Linked DNA regions of Homo sapiens: regions 1, 2 and 3 are each linked to region 4. Evidence: fine-mapped expression QTL. A gene starts in region 4. Each other region holds a variant in brackets. All regions are shown on one strand. Distances are between the middles of the regions. Region 1 has its middle 81 kb from the start of GPAT3. Region 2 overlaps GPAT3 (glycerol-3-phosphate acyltransferase 3). Region 3 overlaps GPAT3 (glycerol-3-phosphate acyltransferase 3). Region 4 holds the start of GPAT3 (glycerol-3-phosphate acyltransferase 3).

Region 1 (5,149 bases), 81 kb before region 4:
TATTTGGGCAGACAAATGAAGAAAAAGGAGCTTTGCAAATATCTAGGAGATCATTCCAAGCTGAAGTAGCAAGTGCCAAGGCCCTGAGCACAAAAATTCATAGTGGTTTCAAAAAAAGAACAAAAGGGCCAGAGTACTGCAGGAGTTTGAGCCAGGGAAAGCATGATAGAAATCAGGCTAGAAGACTGATCAGTGGTCAGATTGTTTCAAGGCTTCGAATACTGGGGTAAGGAATTTAATCTTTATCCTCTGTGTAATGGGAAGCCACTGAAGAGTTCTGATAGTGGGAGCAAAATGAGTCAATTTATGAGTTGAAATTATCACACTAGCTTCTATTTACCAAATAGACTATTTGGGGAACAAGAGAAGAGGCAGGGAGATCCATTAGAAGAGTTACTATAGCCCTGTAAGAAATGATGATGGCTTGGGCTAGGGAAGTGATGCTGGGGAAGTGGTAAATGGCTCCAAAATAAGAACATGGGGCATTTCGGAGTCAAAAAGGTCTGCGATTATAAACAACCCTCTCCTATTTGGTTTGGTTTTGTTTTGTTTTCTCAAGGGTATGGGAATTGGGAAGGACAGTATATGCACAGAACAAGGAATCACCTGCACGTTTCCTGACTTCACTGGAGAGCACTTAGTCATTCCTCAAGGCACACTCATGTCCTCCCTTCTACACACCCTTCCACCCAACATTTATCACCTCTCTACACTCCCACAGCACTTTGTTCCTGGGCTGGAAAACAGGGCCTCGCCACTTCCTCTTGTGGTTAGTGGTGTTTGTCTCTACTTCCAGATTTTTCTAAGCTCCTGAATGGCAAGTTCCTGCCTTGGGCAGCAAAGAACCTCAAGACTAACAGAGCCTGAATTATAGTATGTATTTTATAAAATATGTGTAAATGCCTAAAGAGGATAACTGTTAAACAGAAGCAGTTTCCAAAGAGAGCTTTTGGACCAAGGAATTTACTAGGTGAAGCTATGGTATTTCATTCATCATTCCATTGTTAACCAAAAATCTGGAGAACTGACTGGATAGAACAGGATTTCCAAAGTCATTTCTCTGCCTATCCTAAAAAAAATTCGGTTCTGCAGGAACAGTTTCAGAACCTGCCTTACAAATAACCAGCACTGAAAATTCCTTCCAGTTAGGACGTTTGACAGGTTCACTTGTGCTTAATTTAGCAACAGACATCAGGGCTGCCTGTATCAAAGAATGATTGCAATGAAAAACAGGCTTTGAACCAAGGTCAACCCCACAGGTGACTCAGCACATGAGCACTGTCACGTGTGCATTCCATAGATGTCAGCTCCACTCCCGGCTCCTAGTCACAGAGCTTGATTCCATTGACACTATACTTTAGTTGTAAAGGAAGTATACTTTTCTGTAAACTCTTTCAGAAGAGTGCTTAGGCATTTACTATCCCAAACTTACATGAAAAATGTTCAAAGGCACTCTAAATCCCCTATGATGTTTTCGTCCAAACATGTTTCTTGATTTTGTTTTTATTTTCCACCTGCTTCAGTGGATTTCCATAGCCCAGAGTTTTTGCCTTTGTCATTGTTGTGTCCTCAGACCTAGAACAGCATACGAATTGTAAGCACCAAATATAGGTGTTTTCCTTTATAAAGCTAGAGAAACAATGATTTGAAAACTTGCCCAACTCTAACCTGTGATCCCTAATTGACTTGTGTAATCAGCAAGGATATATCTTAACTAAGCCAAGACATACAATTGTCAAAGATTCTCAAAAAAGTTTAAATTCACCTATTTGTATAAGAAATATATATATTTCACCTTGAGAGGAGACTAACTGGTTCTGCTCTTTGAGCTATCCACTCCCTGATCACAGCTTTAGAGGGCAAACGGATTTGAAATGTTTTAGGTCACCAAGATAGAGTATACATTTTTTATTCTCAGAGTTTTCCAAGACATCTTTTCCGGACACAGAGCCAAGAGGCCAGCAAGTAGCCAGAATTACTATATGCGTCTCACAACAGCAGGGAGTGCTCATAGCAGGAATTTATGACCATGGAGGGCCATCAAAAGCCTTGATGGGATCCTCAGCCTAGGCTGTAACACGTGCAGCCTGAAAACTCACCACCCACCCACAATGCCAAGAACACCAATGACCTGGTGGCTTCTTTCAGCTGACTTCCTGCTGTCGGGTTTTTGTATTCTCCACCAACACCAAAATCTTCCAGTTTTCCCTGTGTTAGTCCAGATCTCCTATAAATCACTTTATCTTACAAAACCTTTCAGCATTTAATTTGCAAATGAACAGTAATGATTCTAAAGGAGAGGCTTTTCTCCTTATATTTAAATAATGGCTTTAACCTAGAGTAAAACACTCAGAGAAACTTCTTTTTAAATTTAAAG[T/C]TGTCTCCTTCTAGAACTTTTATTTTTTGCAACAAGAACTCACTCTCTTCCTATATGATAAAAGAAAATGATTTTGAATGCTTCTGTAACTAGCAAGAAAGTTAGGACTACTCAAGTCAGAGACTAAAGGAAGATCGATTCCCAGAGGAAAAAGCAGAGCAGAGAGCCCAGCAGTTGTCATTTACTTTGCAGGCATTGGCTGAACCAGGCAAACTCTAGCATTGGTTTCTAGAGCCTTAAGGGCCTAAGGGACAAAAAACAAAATTGAAGTCCTGCCCAAGATGGAAAGTCTAACTACAGTCTTCCTTTGAAGGTGAAATATCAAAGGACTATAACCTCTGTGTAACAGTAAAGTAGAAAGGGCCAGGTGCAGTGGCTCATGCCTGCAATCCCAGCACTTTGGGAGGCCGAGGCGGGCGGATCACCTGAGGTCAAGAGTTCGAGACCAGCCGGACCACATGGAGAAACCCCATCTCTACCCAAAAAAAATACAAAATTAGCCAGGCATGGTGGCGCACACCTGTAATCACAGCTACTCTGGAGGCTGAGGCAGGAGAATCGCTTGAACCCGGGAGGCAGAGGTTCCGGTAAGCCGAGATCACGCCATTGCACTCCAGCCTGGGCAACAAGAGCGAAACTCCATCTCAAAAAAAAAAAAAAAGAAAAGAAAAAAAAAAGAAATAATCCATCCTCCAATCTCAAATGTAAGCAAGGCAAATTGCTTGTGTCAAACCTTACTGATAAGTGAAAGGGAAAAATAACTTTCCCCTAAAGATTTAAAACTACTTGGCAATTAAAAAGAATGAATTACTTATAAATACAATGTGGATTTATCTAAAAATAGTACACAGATCATTCAAAACCACAATGGCTCACCTTTGGATTTACAGACTGAATTCTCACTATTTCCATAGCCCGATAACCTCAAGCCAACAATATAGTTTAAAGTAGTACCAGATTGATAGTGCCCTAGAGCTGGGGTGGGCAACCATATCAGATGAAGAAGCAGATAGTAAACATTTTAGGCTTTGTGGGCCATGCAGGTCACTATAGCAACTACTCAACTTTGCTTTTGTCATGCAAAAGCAGCTATAGGCAATATATAAACAAATGCTGTCTTGCAATAAAATTGTATTTACAAAAACAGACAGAGGGCAGGATTTGGCCTACAAGCTTTGGTTTGCTGATCCCTGCTCTCCAGGTCTAAGAGAGGATAAAATTCCAAAGATGATAATTATTAAAATTCTCTAAACACACAAAGACTCTATGAACAAGAAGCAGCAGAAAAGATAGACCCAGACCCTCAAAAGATATAAGATTTTGGAGTTGTTGGGAAAAACATAAAATCAATAAGCATAAGGTACTTCAAAACTATGTGAGAGTAATCACATTTGAAAAAGAATTAGATATAACTCTTACAAATGAGAAATAAGGCTGGGCGCAGTGGCTCATGCCTGTAATCCTAACACTTTGGGAGGCTGAAGCAGGCAGATCACCTGAGGTCAGGAGTTCGAGACCAGTCTGGTCAATATGGTGAAACCCTGTCTCTACTGAAAATACAAAAAAAAATAGCTGGGAGTGGTGGTGCATGCCTGTAATCCCAGCTACTCAGGAGGCTGAGGCAGGAGAATCGCTTGAACCCAGGAGGCAGAGATTGCAGTGAGCCAAGATTGTGCCACTGCACTCCAGCCTGGATGACAGACGGAGACTCAGTCTCATAAAAAAAACAAAGGGAAATAAAGGACATCAACAAAATGGTTAACTAGAGTTGCCTGGCACATATCCCTCCCAACAAAAAACAACCAAAACAACAAATAACAACTAACATTCAACTGTAGTGTCTGAGGGACAGCACTGGAGTGCAGAAAGGGACTGGTGAAATCCCTGTGGAGCACAGAAGCCCAGGATGTCAGCAAAAAGAGGGGAGCAAGGCACCCTGCCCCTGCCACCCCATCTCTCCCATTGAGATTGGCTCAGATCCAGGAGGGACTTCTCCATATGGGAAAAAGGTAAGCAGAAGGCCCCCACATGCCTGAACTGCCACTGCAGATTCCTGTAGTACTTACTATAGAAGAATCCCACAGTCCTCAAAAGCCCTTAGCCCAGTTTGCGGAGCTGCTTGGAATTAACATAGCTGCGTTACTCCAGAGTAGGAACACAAGGTGTGCACTCCCCACCCCAATCAACCCCAGTGAGCCAAGCTACTGCAGGACTGTGCCATCTTGAAACTGGAACCACTGCTAGAGTCCACCCTGCTCTGGGGTCCAGCAGCCACTGCATGTCTCCAGCCTTGAGTCTCTGCCATTATTTTACCAAGTCCACACAGGTGGCTGCAATACCACAACGCTGTCTGCTTGGAGCATGGGGCCAGGAACAGCCATGACTTCAGCATTGCACAGCAGGAAAGCCAACCCTTGGCTGGCTGAACTAAATAGTCCAATGGACCTTCCCCCAGAAAGTCCCCCTTCTTGGCACTCACTACCAAAGAAACAGCCTGACAAACCTGCCCCTGAGACAAGCCACCGAACTACTGCACATCCATGTCCCAGCTGGAGAAGCAACAAGGTGAACCCACCTCCAGCAGAAACATTCCTGGTGGACCCACTCCCAGGTCCACCAAGCATCTGTATCCCTGCACCCATGGCCAGCGAAACTGCATGGAAAATTCACCCCCAGCAAGCCAGTCACCAAACCAACCAACCCACTGCACACTTATGCCTCTGGCCAGAGAAAAAGCTCAATGGTCCCATCCCCGCAAAGATGCACCACTGC
Region 2 (5,149 bases), 33 kb before region 4:
AATGTCAGCTACATTTTAAAATATATATATGAAGCCAAGCGCAGTGGCTCACATCTGTAATCCCAGCACTTTGGGAGGACAACGGGGGTGGATTACCTGAGGTCAGGAGTCTGAGACCAGCCTGGCCAACATAGTGAAACCCCCGTCTCTACAAAAAACACAAAAATTAGTCAGTGTGATGGCAGGCACCTGTACTCACAGCTACTTGGGAGGCTGACACAGGAGAATTGCTTGAACCCGGGAGGCAGAGATTGCAGTGAGCCGAGATGGCACCACTGCACTCCAGCCTGGATAAAAGAGGGAGACTCCATCTCAAACAACAACAACAAAACTATATATGTGTATATACACATATATATATATGCGTGTATATATATATATGTGTGTGTATATATATGTGTGTGTGTATATATATATATACACATATATATATGAGTGGGGGAAAACTATAAGGAAATACATTAAAATATTAGGCTTTTTCTGATTAATAAGTATTTCATATGGCTGATTTTTAACTTATTTATACTTCTGCAATGTCTAATTTTTCAACAAAGTATATATACTTTGTTGAAAAATACTTACATTGAGAAAAATACTTAAGATGTTATTTTTAAAACTATAATGAGATACTACTACATACCCACAAAAATGGCTAAAATTTTAAAAGGCCAAAAATACCAAGTGCTGGAGATGCTAGGGACCAACTGGAACTCTCAAACTTTGCTGCTGAGAGTGCACAAACATTTTAGAATACCATGTAGCAGTTTCTAATAAAGTTCAACAAATACTTGCTTACCCTATGGCACAGACAGTCATAAGAATGTCTGTACAATGTTTATAGCAGCTTTATTCCTAATGGCTAAAAACTGGAACTAACCCAATTATCAATCGACATTATAATAAATAAACAAACTATTGGTATTATATAAAGGAATACTCCATAGCAATTATTTTTAAAAATCCACTGATTCATGCAACATGGAGAAATCTCACAACTATTATACAGAGTGGGAACAAAAACAGACACAAAGAATATATAATGTATGATTTCATTTATGTAAATGTCAAAAACAGTAAAAACAGACGATGACAGAAATCAGAAGAGAGAGTACCACTGGGACTGAGAGATGAAGGGCAGATACTGAGCAGGGGCTTAAGAGAACTTTGAGATCATAAATGTGTTCTTTAGCTCGATTGGGGTAATCACATGAGCCTACAAATATGTAAAAAATCATGTATCTGAACACTGAATATGTGCATTGTAACAGATGCAAATTATACCTCAATTTTTTTTTAATCAGAAAAAAAAGATTACCTTTAAGAGTTCTCCCAAGCTGGGCACAGTGGCTCACGCCTGTAATCCCAACACTTTGGGAGGCCAAGGCGGGTGGATCACCTGAGATCAGGAGTTCGAGACCACCCTGGCCAACATAGTAAAACCCTGTCTCCACTAAAAATATGAAAATTAGCCAGGCATGGTGGTGCACATCTGTAGTGCCGGCTACTCAGGAGGCTGAGGCAGGAGAATCACTTGAACCCAGGAGGCGGAGGTTGCAGTGAGCCGAGATCGTGCCGCTGCACTCCAGCCTGAGTGACTGAGCAAGACTCCGTCTCAAAAAAAAAAAAAAAAAAAGAGTTCTCCCAAATTTCTAGCTATAGTTTCAATTAAAGGCTCTAGCCAATCCTATCTTCCCATGTATATTTTAAAATCTTCCTTCCTAAACTAAAAGGCAGCTGACATTGACTGAGTGTCTCCTGATGCCAGGCTGTATATAAAACCCTTGACACCTACACTTTTGTAGTCTTCGCAATCCTATGAGGTATTCTGTATTATCTCCAACTTATACATGAGGAAATTAAAGTGCAGAGGGGTTGAGTAACTTGCCTGGGGCCAGAGAGAAGAAGGAACTGAGACAGGATTTGCAACCAAGTCGGTGACTCCAAAACCAAGTGCTTCCTCATATGTTATTGCCTCAAGTTTCACATCGCTCTAACCAATACCTGCCCACTGACGAATCCCAAATATGTAAGATATTTCTCGTCAATACAACACCACCCCCAGTTCTTCCTTGCTAAACAGAAAGCCCTGAGTAGCAGCTCTTCCTAGCATTTCTCCTACCTTTGAGGGAAGAAAGATAACTTTAATTGATACAAGAAAATCTATATATGGCCCCTATCTAACATTAATCTAGACATGCACTTACAATTCACTTACACGTGATCATTCTTCCCAGAAAGTTGTGACACAATTCACCCTTTTTTTTTTAACTGAGGCAGGAATCTTTTACAGCTTGGAACCCACTTAAATTCCTCTCATTTAGAATCTCTGGGCCATCCTACAATAAGCCAAACAAACAAACAAACAAAACCATGCCCTGGGCAGTGGTGCACCAAGTGGTCCCCAGTGCTGTAGTTCAGCCAGGTCCACGTTGTCCAAGGAGACCGTTCTGCCCTCTGCTAAGACTCTGTAACATCAGTGCACAGGCATCCTGCCAGTATCCTTACTCTTCAAGGCCTCTACACGGCAGAAGCAGCTTCCCTACACATCTCACAGATGACATAGTCAAGGTTTAGAAAGGATAATCCCCCTTGATTTGTTGTTGGTGTTATTGTTCTTAGATATATTCTCACACCTTCTACCATTTTTACATCTTTATTAACCTGGACCGTCAGCCAGGCAAGGTTTATAGAAAATGGTCTCTCTTTTTTGGTCCAAAGAGCCAAGCAGCCCTGCTATATTCTTCTCAGTCATCACTCCAGGTTTCAGTTCAAGGTCTTTGAGCAAAAGACAGATTGACCATGAAGCCAGTAAGGTTAAACTTCAGGGTCCAAACTTGCATAGGCTCCTTCCAAGGTCCTGTACTTACTTTTGCATGGATCACTTTGTATTCCTTATTAAAGAAGGCCTCTAAATTGCATAAGCTTTAAGCCCCCACAAGACCTGGACTTGCCCCTACCTCTGAATAACATTATCATTTTGTTGATACAAACAACAGATCTATGTTAAACCATTCACCTTACAAATGAAGCTGATTTAGGAGAAATACTTAAGATGAGAGAACCAACT[G/T]ATTACCAGTAAGCATTAGAACACTGGGAGGTCACAGACACACATAACATCTTTCCACTTAATTTCACATATTATGAATAGTATTTTATCTATTTAATGGTTACATTAGCAATGTACTAGTAAGAGAGGTTGCTCCTTGTTAGGCAGTTTTGTGGTTATTTTAAGGTTTTAAGTTTCTCAGTTATTGGAAGTGGGGGAATTGAAGAGGATGACAAATGAAAAATGTGAATACAGGCCGGGCGTGGTGGCTCATACCTGTAATCCCAGCACTTTGGAGGCTGAGGTGGGTGGATCACCTGTCAGGAGATCGAGCCTATCCTGGTTAACATGGTGAAACCCCGTCTCTAGTAAAAATACAAAAAGTTGGCCGGGTGTGGTGGCGGGTGCCTGTAGTCCCAGCTACCCCGGACGCTGAAGCAGAAGAATGGCGTGAATCTGGGAGGCGGAGCTTGCAATGAGCCTAGATCGCGCCACAGCACTCCAGCCTGGGCAACAGAGCGAGACTCCGTCTCAAAAAAAAAAAAAAAGTGAATACAAATGAAAAGTTAAAAAACACTACATAAAAGTTTCACAGGTTTCCTGGTAGCAATAACCCTGCCTTAGAAGAAATAGATTATGATATACCATACAATAGGTCCATAAAATGAAAAGGGGAAGAAGTCATCACAACTATGATGACCTTTAATATACATGAAATGTGCTCAAAATAAATGCATCTCCTTTGGTTTTCCTAAGCGCTACTCAATCATGATGACTCAATCACAATTGCCTATTTTAAAAAAAAGCATTCGAGTTATGAAACTACTCACGCTCCCCCTAGTAACATGGCCTGGGTTGGCACATTTAAAGATACAAGTTACAATCAATTTTTTTTTAATGTGAAACAGGGTAAAGTTTACTTTAAGCACCTGCACACCCCACTACTTAATCCAATTAAGAAAAATAAAATAAGGGCAGGAGAGAAAGCCCACATATAATACAAAATAAAAATGTGCAAAGAAAAAAACAGAAAATCATAAAAATCATAAGAAAGAATTCTACACAAAGTCTTCTGCAAATAACTTTAATGAAAATCTGGGTAAACAGATAATTTTCTATTTAAAAAAAAAGTTGCTCAAAGCTTTACTGACACCAAGAGATGAACATGCTAAAGAGAACCATTTGCACAGATGAAATAATGTTGCAGGCAGCAAAAAAATACCTACATATGCACCCCTAACCAACCAATAAGCACCAGACCCAGGCTTTTTTTGTTGTTGTTGTTTTCAAATAGAGACAGGATTTTGCCATGTTGCCCAGGCTGGTCTTGAACTCCCGAGCTCAATGATCCACCCGCCTCAGCCTCCCAAAGTGCTAGGATTACAGGCATAAGCCACCACTCCTGGCCCAGACCTTTTTTTAAGGAATTCTACCAAACATTTAAACTGACAAGGGAAGGAGAAATAAAGGAAGATAGGTAAGTAATACACTAATCACAAGTATAAGAATCAACTGTAAAAATCCTAACTTCAATTTTGGCAGACAACTTCCAGCATCATATTATGACCAGGTAATGTTTATTCCATAAATGCAAAGACAATTCAAATATTTTTAAAGTTATTAATAAAATTCACTACAATGGGTCTAAGAGGGGTAATCTATCTTCACCATCAGACATGCCTTAAAAGCATGAAAATTCAACATTCACTCTTAATTTAAAGTAACAAAACAAGAATCAGCAACTATTTAACATGAGATGGAAAAATAGATCAAAGTTGACATGATCTTTATTGGGAAGACCCTAAAGGCACTGAAGACCATCCACATAGAAATGCCAACTTGCCAACTAGCACCACTACTGTTTAGCACTGCAGGGAGTATCAGCCAGCACAACCAGACAAGAGAAAAAAAATGAAGTACAAACTAGGAAAGAAATAAAATGCAAACCAAAGTTGAATAAGAAATGGCAAGCCTATCAATATCTGAAGATAAAATAATTATATATCTGAACAAAAGGAAATTCCTGAAAAACCATATACAGTATGAGAATTCTTAATTTTATATTCTTCTACCTTACTAAAGTAGAAAATTTTCCTATACATG
Region 3 (5,149 bases), 21 kb before region 4:
CAGGAGATGTAAAGGTCTACTGGTTTGCTCCCTGAGGGACCTTCTGGAAACTTCATGGGCCTCTAGGCAATCAAAGCTCTTCTTTCACCAGCCCAATCTTTGGAGGAAACAGAGCTTTGAGGAAGAGAAGCAGGAAAACCAGGCACCTGGTCTAGAAAAGTCAGTGAAGGGGGTCCACAGTGGAGCTTCCACCATACTATTCTGAGGCTGCTTCACAAAGACCAAAGCTCCTGCCTAAAGGTTTTGCCTGCTCCCCAGGCATCCAGACATCACTGGCTTTTTCCTACTCCAACCCAAGAAAAGGATTCTGTCTAATCACAAGTCCAATTGGCTGTCTCTCTTGTCTGACCAAAATCCTGTTCTCGCCAAACAGAAGCACTGCTATCTACTTCCATCTCCCCAGCCTACTGTGTACAAAGCATGCCTTGCCACCTGCCCCCCTCATCTTTTTGTTCATGTGAGAATGCATGGGTCCCAGGAGCTTCGGTGAGAGGACAGAGAAAAATGGGAAATTCCATTACCAAAACATTTTAGAGAAAGAAGAAAAGGCAAAGGAGAATGGAACGATTGTTGCTACTTGCTGGCAGATTAAAAGAACTGATGAAGAACTTTCCTGCTTTCTCCGGGTGCACTGGCTCACGCTTGCGATCCCACACTTTGGGGGGCCGAGGCAAGCAGATTGCCTGAGCTCAGGAGTTCAAGACCAGCCAGGGCAACACAGTGAAACCCCATCTCTACTAAAATACAAAAAATTAGCCAGGCGTGGCAGCATGCGCCTGTAATCCCAGCTACTCGGGAGGCTGAGGCAGGAGAATCGCTTGAACCTGGGAAGCAGGGGTTGCAGTGAGCAGAGACTGGGTCACTGCACTCTAGCCTGGGTGACAGAGCAAGACTCTAACTCCAAAAAACAAAAAAAAAATCTTTCCTGCTTTCTCTGCTTATATACTAAGTAATCCACATGAGATAGTCCCATGATTATAAACACTGCCTAAAGAAGGATTTAAAAATAAACAGACATTTAAAATTTTTATAGAGAACTTTTTACAATCAAGATGACCAGGCACTGTTAAGAAAATGAAAAGAGCTTTGTTATATAACTTATACCTCTCCCAAAATTCTAAACTATTTATCCTACTTGGAAAATATCTCATATAATCTACCTGCTAGTCTGGTCCAGTTTTCTAATCATTTTTTGCTAACAAGAAGTGTTTTCTTATATACAATATAATTCTTTTATTTCCATTTAAGCCAATCTTTTTGTTCCATCTCTTAAGAATTTGAGAAAATGTGGGTTTGCTTCCTCTTTCCAACTTAGTTAACCAACTTAATATGAGTCATCCCTTGGTTTTTCTCTAAATTCAGTAATCAGCCTTCACAGATCTCACTTAACAGATTCACAGATCTCTTAACCATTTTTCAGGCTTCAGAATTTCCTCTTTGCCACCCTTAATATGAACAGTTAACCTGGGTTTATCTACGCTTTTACATCAAATCCAAACTGCTTTGTTTTTAGGGCCTCCAGAACCCAATCTTGCTTTCCCACAACCTTATTTCTATGTTTTGTCCCTTCTATAAACTAAATATACTCCCATTGCTAATTAAGCTATTCCCTCATCCCTCCAGTTTAGACAGTCTTCTCACTTTATTTAATCCCAATCCATCTCCACATGGCCGCTTCAACACCAGTATATCCACCAAAAAACATTTGCCAATGTCCCCCATCCAGAATGATCTCCTTTCATATTGCAGGCAGAAACCAGGGTGAGTGGTTCAGTCATGGCTGTGTGGTTGAATGTGCTGGTTCTGTTAGCACTGCAGCATCTTTTTAGGTTCTGTTTTGCCTTGTTTTTCACTGGTTGTCTAAACCTCTGCCTCTGTCATTCTGTGGCACACCTTTATCACGTAACCCAGCCCAGTTTTTTTAATCCCATTTTAGAGCATCAGCTATGGGTAAACAATCTTGAAAGCAGTCCCACTCTCTGATGGTTCATTCATCAAAACTGTCAAGATGACTTTCTTTTTTTTTTTT[A/G]AGACAGAGGCTTGCTGTGTCGCCTAGGCTGGAGTGCAGTGGTATGATCTTGGCTCACTGCAACCTCCGCCTCCCCAATTCAAGTGATTCTCCTACCTCAGTCTCCCTAGTAGCTGAGATTACAGGCATGCACCACCATGCCCGGCTAATTTTGTGTATTTTTAGTAGAGATGGGATTTCACCATGTTGGCCAGGCTGGTCTCGAACTCCTGACCTCAGGTGATTCACCTGCCTCGGCCTCCCAAAGTGCTGGGATCACAGGCATGAGCCACCACACCCAGTCAAGATGACTTTAAATTCTATTCCGGTTTCCTACATTGTTTAAAACTCTGAGTCTCCAATCAACTTCATTGCCCTTTACATTATGTCAAATTCATCAATACTACCTCAAACAATAAAATCAAATGCATGCCAAAACCCAGCTACTCAACATGTTCCCCAACTCTCAGTTAGTGACCCTCTCTGGTACACAGCGTGAGAACCCCTATCTATCCTCCAGATCAGAGGTAGTGCAAAGGCCAACTCCAAAACAATGAGACATGAGTAGCTGTCTGCTGGATTGCATGAAAGAGTTCTGAGGACATATCATGGTTTAGGGCATCTTGTCCAACCCATGGCCTGTGGGCTGCATATAAATGTGTGTTGGGCCACATTCAACATTAAAACATTATGAAATTTTTTTGCAATTTTTTTTTAAGCTCATCAGCTATTGTTAGTGTTAGTGTATTTTATGTGTGGCCCAAGACAATGCTTCTTCCAATGTGGCCTAGGGAAGCCAAAAGACTGGATACCCCTAAGTTAGAGTCAAACTTCATCAACTAGTGATGTCTGCCAGGATGATGGCAAGGGAACAGACAGAATGGATTTGCTGACCCTGTTATTTGGGATTAGAATAGAATCAAAAGCTTTACTAAAATAAAGGTAACTTCAATACTCCGATTGCTACATGGTTTGCACATTTGTAATAGAATAATTTGTACCCCTCCCCTTTTTTATAACTGAGTAATTTTCTGCTAGCATCTCTCAGTTACCAAAACCAAGTTAAATGTACTGCCATAGACTAAATCTTTGCATCTGCCAAGACTAGTGTGTTGAAACCTAATCCCCAATGTCAGAGTATTTGGAGGTGGGACCTCTGGGAGGTAATTAGATCATGAGGGTGGAGCCCTCATGAATGGGACTATTGCCCTTATAAGAAAGGTCCTAAAAAGATCCCTCACTCCTGTCATCATGTGAGGTTACAGCAAAAGGACAGCCCTGTACAAACCAGGAAGCTGGGCCTTGATCTTGGGCTTTCCAGCCTCCGGAACTGTGAAAAATCAGTGTTTGTTGTTTATAAGCCACCCACTCTATGGTATTTTGTTATAGCAGCCTGAGTGGACTAAGACAAATACTAGGCTAGAAGCAATAGATTTACTTTTTTTTTTTTTTGAGAACCGTAGATGAGAAAATCTAGTTCTTTTTTCATCATTGCATATTCCAGTAGTTCTCCAAAAACTTACAAAATAATCAATGCTGATTATAAAATAGGAAAATTTTAACCCCAAATATAAATATTAGCCACATAATTAACTGTGAGTTTTGATGCATAAATGGGGATGGGGTGGAGCTGAGGACACTAATCAATTGTCAGTTAGCACTGAAAAAAAAATAGCGTTGAGAATAACAGGCAGAGTTCCCTTTTTTGTTTGTTTCTTTTTCTTTTTTTTTTTTCTTGAGACTGAGTCTCACTGTGTCACCCAGGCTGGAGTGCAGTGGTGCAATCTCAACTCACTGCAACCTCCACCTCCTGGATTGAAGTGATTCTCATACCTAAGCCTCCCAAGTAGCTGGGATTACAGCTGTGCACCACCATATCCGGCTATTTTTTTGTATTTTAGTCAAGACAGGGTTCCACCATGTTGGCCAGAATGGTCTTAACAGAGTTTCATTTTAACGACTAACATTTTAACAACCCACTCTTGACCTACATCTTGGCTGGCAGCCCACATTAACTCTGTTGATTTGGATACAGCTAACTTGATTAAACAAGAAATCCCACAGCACAGAAGCATTCATAAAACTCCACTGTCAAATGAACCATTAATTCACTTAAAATGTCAGCCTTGTGGTTTGGCATTTATGTATGGTATCTTTGATTGTAATGCTAAATATTCTTAATAGATTTGTTTCTTCAAAAATTTCATTGATAAGGACAAACTGTTAGGAGCTTCCTGGTAAGTGACTATATAATAAGAAAAAAACAAACTGACTTTTCTTCTACTATACTCTCACCAAAACACAGAACACTCCTGTGACCCCAGATGTGTGGGTTTTTCTCCCACACCAAACAATTCTTCGACACCAGCTAGATGTCCCATAATTCAATTAAATTTTGACACTATCTACCTGGAGTTAGAGTCAAATTCCACAAATGAAGGGCTCAGTTCTACAAGACCGCCTCCACTTCAGGTGCCAATTGCAAGTCCAAGCCTTTGGTACTTCTGATCTACCAGCTATAAATTGAGCGTTCCCATAGTCCCTTCCTCAGGTTCAGTCATTTGCTAGAATGGCTCACAGAACTCAGGGAAACACTTTACTTACTAGTGCTGATGTATTACAAAGGATATTTTAAAGCACACAAATGAACAGCCAGATGAATACTGCACTGACGACAAGGTTCAGAAGGGTCCCTAGCACAGAAGCCTCTGTTCCCATGAAGCTGGGGTGCACCTCCCACCAGGCACCTGGATGTGTTCAACAATCTGAAAGTTCTCTAAACCCTGTATTTTTTAGTTTTTATGGAAGCTTCATGACATCAGCTTCCATAAAATGATTAAATGATCGATTTAATCATTGCCCTTTGGGGAGCAATATGGAGGGGAGCTGAAAGTTCCAACCCTGTAATCACATGTTTGGCTCCCCTGGCAATCAGCCACCATCCTGAGGCTATCTATCCAGGAGCTCCCAGCCACCAGTCATCTCATCAGCATACACAAAGACACTATCACTTATCACTGCAGAGATGCCAAAGGTTTTAGGACCTATGTGACAGGAAAGGGAGAGGGAGCAGAAGTCTAATACATATTTCTTATTATGTCACAGTGACAAAGCCAACTCTCAGAAGAGGAGGCCAGGCGC
Region 4 (5,149 bases):
CACAGCTCTCTTTCCTGATGAGCTCAGATGCTCCCAAACATAGGAGTTCCAGGCAGCCGCAACCAACAAATCAGAGCTGGCTCACACAATGAATCTGTATTCAAATTCCACATATATCAAGCATCTCTTTGACCTAATAACTTAGTCTCAGCAGACAGGGTGGGTTCCTGATGTGTCACCTACCTGGTTTCCAAGTTATCTGGTTTCTCCCACCAGAATTAGAAAACTGGCATTCTTGTCAGTTTGATTGACAAGGAGTTCAGCTCTGGAGTTATCCAGAAGGACAAAAATTAAAATCTCTGGCCTGTCAAACTGAAAGTCAGATCCTGGACTGGAGATCATCCTATCAGGTATAATAATTTGCCAGGCTGACAGCAACTAGCTGGCCTCCGTCCTTAGCTGACCTTGAGTTACTAAAGAAAAACAGACAGAAGTGAGCCCCTGGAAGCCAGTGGGTGTGATTTACCTTTACACCATTCTTACACAGGGTATAAATTCCAAAAGACATTGCTGTATGAGAGAGCAGTTCAATCATTTCAGAGTTCAGAGAAAGAGGGAACACCAGCTGAAGAGGATCATCTGCTATGGGAGAGGATTCTGAAGATCTCACATTAGGAAGCAGTCAAGAAATTCACAGCATAATGTGACCAAGCTCAGAATGTAAAGTCAATAAGAAGAGTTCAAAACTGAGAAATAGCTCCCAAGTAGAAACAGTAGAACTTTAAAAACATGAGCACTGAGGATGAAGAATCACATACAACTTCAAAGTCTAGGCAAAGAAATAGCCACAAACAAGAGTCTAGGGCAATACAGGAGGCTAGCAAGTACAAGACAATGTCCAGTGGGTTAGAGATGTATACCTGGGAGCCACCCAATTAGCTGAGAAAGAAGAGCAGATAAAGCCACGTCCTAAGGGCAGAGAGAAAACAGGTCACAAAAATGGGAACCAAACTTATTAGAAGGCACTGTGGAATGCCAGAATCTCAGTAATCATATTATTCTTTTAATAGCAACAAGCATTCATACAGTAGGTGCAGGCAGCCTTCTAAGGTGCTTGATACCTTTTAACTCATTTGAACAACCCTATGGAAATAGGAGTTATTGTTACTCCTATTTTATAGATACAGAAAATGAGGCACAAGAGTAGATGACCTCCCTAAGGTCACATTTTGAGAAACAGAGCTACAATTTTGGTACCAAATCTAAGCAAACCTGTATCCAGGGTCCCTAATCCTAACCACTAGGCTGCAGGGCCTCTTCTCAGTTGAGATGCCTGTTTCTGGCCAGGCGTGGGGCTCACACCTTTAATCCCAGCACTTTGGGAGGTGACGGCAGGAAGATTGCTTGAGGCCAGGAGTTCAAGACCAGCCTAGCCAAGATAGCAAGACCCTGTCTCTTATGTTAAATATACACACACACACACACACACACACACACACACACATATTATACATATAATTAAATTTTTTTTTAAAAAAAGACTCCTGCTTCTAACACTTAATTCAAAGAAACCACTGATCTCTGACTCTCAGTTTCCCTCTCTGTAAAAGGGGGTTGGCACTTGCCCTCCCTACCCTACCCAGCCTTTTGACACTTAATAAAACCCTAAGAGTAAGCTGCAGTTGTTCTCTACCAGGCCTACTTCCATCTAACATTTTTCTTTGCAGGATTTGGAAACAGGAGGGTAGGGAGACCTGAGGTCAAAGAATATATACCTTTTCAATGGCATTTCAAGTGCTGTTGGTTAGATAAAATTTCCATGACTCCACTAAAATAAAATAAGATTTCTTTCTGCCATCCAGCAATTGGTCTCTTATCTTGGGCATAAAGAAGAACATGATGCCTTTCTGAACTGGATGCCTTAGTACACAAAAGGACCTCTGAAACCTGGGGCTGTAAAAACAAGCGGGTGAAGCGGAAACTGCACTGCATAATGGATATAAGCAAATCCTCTGATACAAAAAGTTGGTCGCATTGTTGTTATTCTAATCAGTAAAATAATAACGATGCTCAGGGAGTGGAATGATTTTTTCGCCTTCGACCAGAGAAACAACAGAGTGGTCCAGTGGTTCCAGCCTAGATCCCTCCAGCTCCGCGAAAGAAGCCGAGATGCTGACTTTCGCACTGCTGCGGGCAAGGAACAGAAATGCACGCACGCATGCACACGCGCGCACACACACCCCTGACTCGCGACCACTGACCTTGAGAACTGGACCCCCGGGTTCTCAGCCCGCAGCGGTGTGGGGCTGGCTGCATCCCTCCCGGCACTCACCTCTAAAGTTTTCACTAGGATCTTCATGTAGATCTCGGAGATGCCCAGAGACACTCCGAAGACCGAAGGTAAAAGGATGAAGCCGAGAACCAGCGTCAGCCAGGTGGAAAGGATCTTCCCGGCCAGCTCTGCGCCCTCCATGACTCGGCGCACCCACTCAGGAGAGGTCCGCAGTGGAGGGCCGAGCGCCACAGCAGTCCCTGTCCCCAGGCAGTCCCGCGGGAGCTCCAGGAGCAGAGCGCCGAGCCCGGCACTCACCTCTGCGAAGGGAAGAGAGGAAGGAAAAAAACTTTCAGAATTACGGCAATATCCTTCCTTCCTCCCTGGGCTCCTCCTCGCCCCTGCCAGTTAACTCTTTCTCCGCTGGCTGCCCAGGTCTGGGCTGAAGCCACCGCGGCGTGCGGAGACCTGGGTAGCGCGAGCCAGTGGTCGGAGCTGCGGGTAAGCGGAGGCACACCGCGGCGCGGGCAGAGCGCGCGAGCGCAGCCAGGAACCCGCCCCGCCCGGTGCCTGATTTCCTCTGGGTGGCGATTGCGACAACTCAGCAGATGACTCACGGAGGCCCTCCCCGAGCCAGGTTCCCTGCGGGAGCACCGCACTTTGGCACACCGGTCGCCGGCGGAGCTGGCACCGGGCCGCGGGCTGTGCTGGAAGCTGGCTGCGCTCGGGCGCCCAGCGCCCTATTTCTGCGCGCTGCCCTCGCCCCACCTCCTCCGTCACCCAACGGGGGAGCTCCCTGGCAGTACTTAGCCCAGGAGTGCCGCAGCCTCCTGGGCGGTCTCCGTTCTTCCCCGCGCCCCGCCTCCCCCAGCACTCAGCAAAGGTCCTTTCAGGAGGAGAGTTTTCATCTGAAAAATGTCAATATTTTCTTCACCCGCAGAATGAACTGCTGACGTATCTGGGACGCTTGAGGTCTTGTTTGTGTGGGTGTAAAACGAACTCTTGGAAAGGGCTTCCAAGGACAGGAAAACGCAGAGCGCACCACGCAGCCGTGTACGCCGCTTCTGGCTTCCACACCTCCTTCCCCACATGGCCTACAGCTGTGGGGCTCAATCTTGCTTATCCCGAGAGTAGGAAGCTCTCTCCACGCGTTGCCTAGCCCACTGAGCCGCCATCTCCCTGGCACAGAAACCCTGCGGCTAAGTATCTGTCACTCCCTTTCTGGGGGAAGATTCCAACCACACCTTCCCCTACCATTCAGCCAATACTATCCGCGCTTAGGCGTAGCAGAAATGCCAGGCCGGCGCAAGCCTTCATTCACCAAGCTGACAGGTGTCTCCTGGGTGTTCAGGCTCCGCGCTTCTACCGCGCCAGCCCTTATCAGAGCAACGAAGGGCAAAACCCTGTATGTTATTTACTACATTGCTGTTCTCTTAGAGACCAGAACTATTTTTAAGAATGAGCAGAAGGGATTTTGAGAAGGGATTTTCCAGATTGCCGCTGAATTCGACCAAAATCTCTTACAGGTACTTTTCAGGTGTTGTTTCAAGCTGGAAAAAAACTGAGAGGGCCAGCAAACTGAATTGAAACAGCGCTGATAGCAAATATTGCAGAGAAAATGGTCCCTGCCCAGGGTGTGGAGGAAGTGGGGAGCCAACGAAGTGACAAGCCCCTCTGTAAAGAATGTAGATGTCTGCCTTAAGTACTTACTGCCAGGTAGCTGTCACAAGCCCCCTCCCACACTAAGAACGGAAAAAATTATAACTTGATGATTAAAACCAGGTTATGGACCGGGCGCGGTGGCTCACGCCTGTAATCCCAGCACTCTGGGAGGCGAGGCGGGCAGATCATCTGAGGTTAGGAGTTCAACACCAGCCTGGCCAACATGGCGAAACCCCCGTCTCTACTAAAAATACAAAAAAATTAGCCCCGCGTGGTGTCGCACGCCTGTAGTCCCAGCTACTCAGGAGGCTGAGGCAGGAGAATCACTTGAACCCGGGAGGAGGAGGTTGCAGTGAGCCGAGATCGTGCCACTGCACTGCAGCCTGGGAGACAGAGTGAGACTCAGTCTAAAAAAAAAAAAAAAGGGTTATGAATGAAGAAGTGTTAGGAGCTTGGTTTCTCAAAATTAAACCTCTGTAAGGTTGGCTAGTTTAGAAAAACACGGAAAACGCAACTACCGAAAGCTGCCCAAAGTCCTTGCTTTCAAACACTATATATATTGAGTGCAAAACTTCAAATATTATATTGGCATATTTAACACCATATGTTCAGGCAAAACTCTTATTTTCCTTTTATTTCCTCAAACCAAGATAACTAAGGAAGGCTAAATCCTTGTACCAAAGTTTACCCCACAAGGGAGATAATACACACAACTTTGCGTGTGCTGAGTGCACACACTCTCCAGTGATTTTTGGTGCTCATGAACAAACTCCACAAAATGGTTTTGGTTTGGTTTTGTTTTAACTGTTACGGAAGAATTATTCGTCCACAGCTGTATGGTGCAATGGTAATAAAATGGAATTTGGAGTCTTCGATTGAGAGCAGCACGAACACATATAAGTTTGAGCAAGTGCTTCTGTGCTTCACCTTTCTCATCAGGAAGATGGGTTCTTCTCAGGGTTGAAAGTGATTGTGAGCATGAAACTGCATGGTAAATGACAAAGCTCTATGCAGAGATCAGCAGGCAGCCTGGTGCAAGGGCAAAAACTCTTCATCTTTTTCTTGCCTAAAAGGCAGGAGAGCCAACACAGGCTCCCCAGGGTAACAAAGGCTCATCTTTGCAGTGATGGAGGAGGGTGAGGGAAGAGAAGAAATGTAGGGTGATCCTGACCCTGTCTCAAGTCGGGGAAAGTTGGTCCCGACTTGCCGCTCTCCTTGTCTCTCTTTCACTCTCCTCACCTCTCCTCCCTCCTCCATTCCTTGAGACTTAAACCT

Evidence for each region. PIP is the estimated chance that this variant, and not a neighbour inherited with it, causes the effect. A credible set is the group of variants that fine-mapping cannot tell apart.
Region 1: its variant is the best candidate, but not a certain one, in a credible set for the expression of GPAT3 in whole blood (TOPMed, PIP 0.50).
Region 2: its variant is the best candidate, but not a certain one, in a credible set for the expression of GPAT3 in blood mononuclear cells (TOPMed, PIP 0.72).
Region 3: its variant is the best candidate, but not a certain one, in a credible set for the expression of GPAT3 in monocytes (TOPMed, PIP 0.70).

Annotation. Positions count from the first base shown.
Region 1 is chr4:83,614,744-83,619,892 of GRCh38, reverse strand. No RefSeq gene overlaps it. Among named protein-coding and RNA genes, the nearest start is that of GPAT3, 81 kb to the right of the region's middle. RefSeq lists enhancers at 1,123-1,417, 591-1,790. The variant T/C (reference allele first, on the strand shown) is at 2,378.
Region 2 is chr4:83,566,956-83,572,104 of GRCh38, reverse strand. The region is part of intron 2 of GPAT3 (glycerol-3-phosphate acyltransferase 3); the gene reads right to left. Among named protein-coding and RNA genes, the nearest start is that of GPAT3, 33 kb to the right of the region's middle. The variant G/T (reference allele first, on the strand shown) is at 3,068.
Region 3 is chr4:83,555,094-83,560,242 of GRCh38, reverse strand. All of the region lies in intron 2 of GPAT3 (glycerol-3-phosphate acyltransferase 3), which reads right to left. Among named protein-coding and RNA genes, the nearest start is that of GPAT3, 22 kb to the right of the region's middle. The variant A/G (reference allele first, on the strand shown) is at 2,030.
Region 4 is chr4:83,533,887-83,539,035 of GRCh38, reverse strand. It overlaps GPAT3 (glycerol-3-phosphate acyltransferase 3), which reads right to left and starts at 2,928. Exons shown (of 12, transcript NM_032717.5): 1 at 2,273-2,928. The coding sequence starts at 2,413.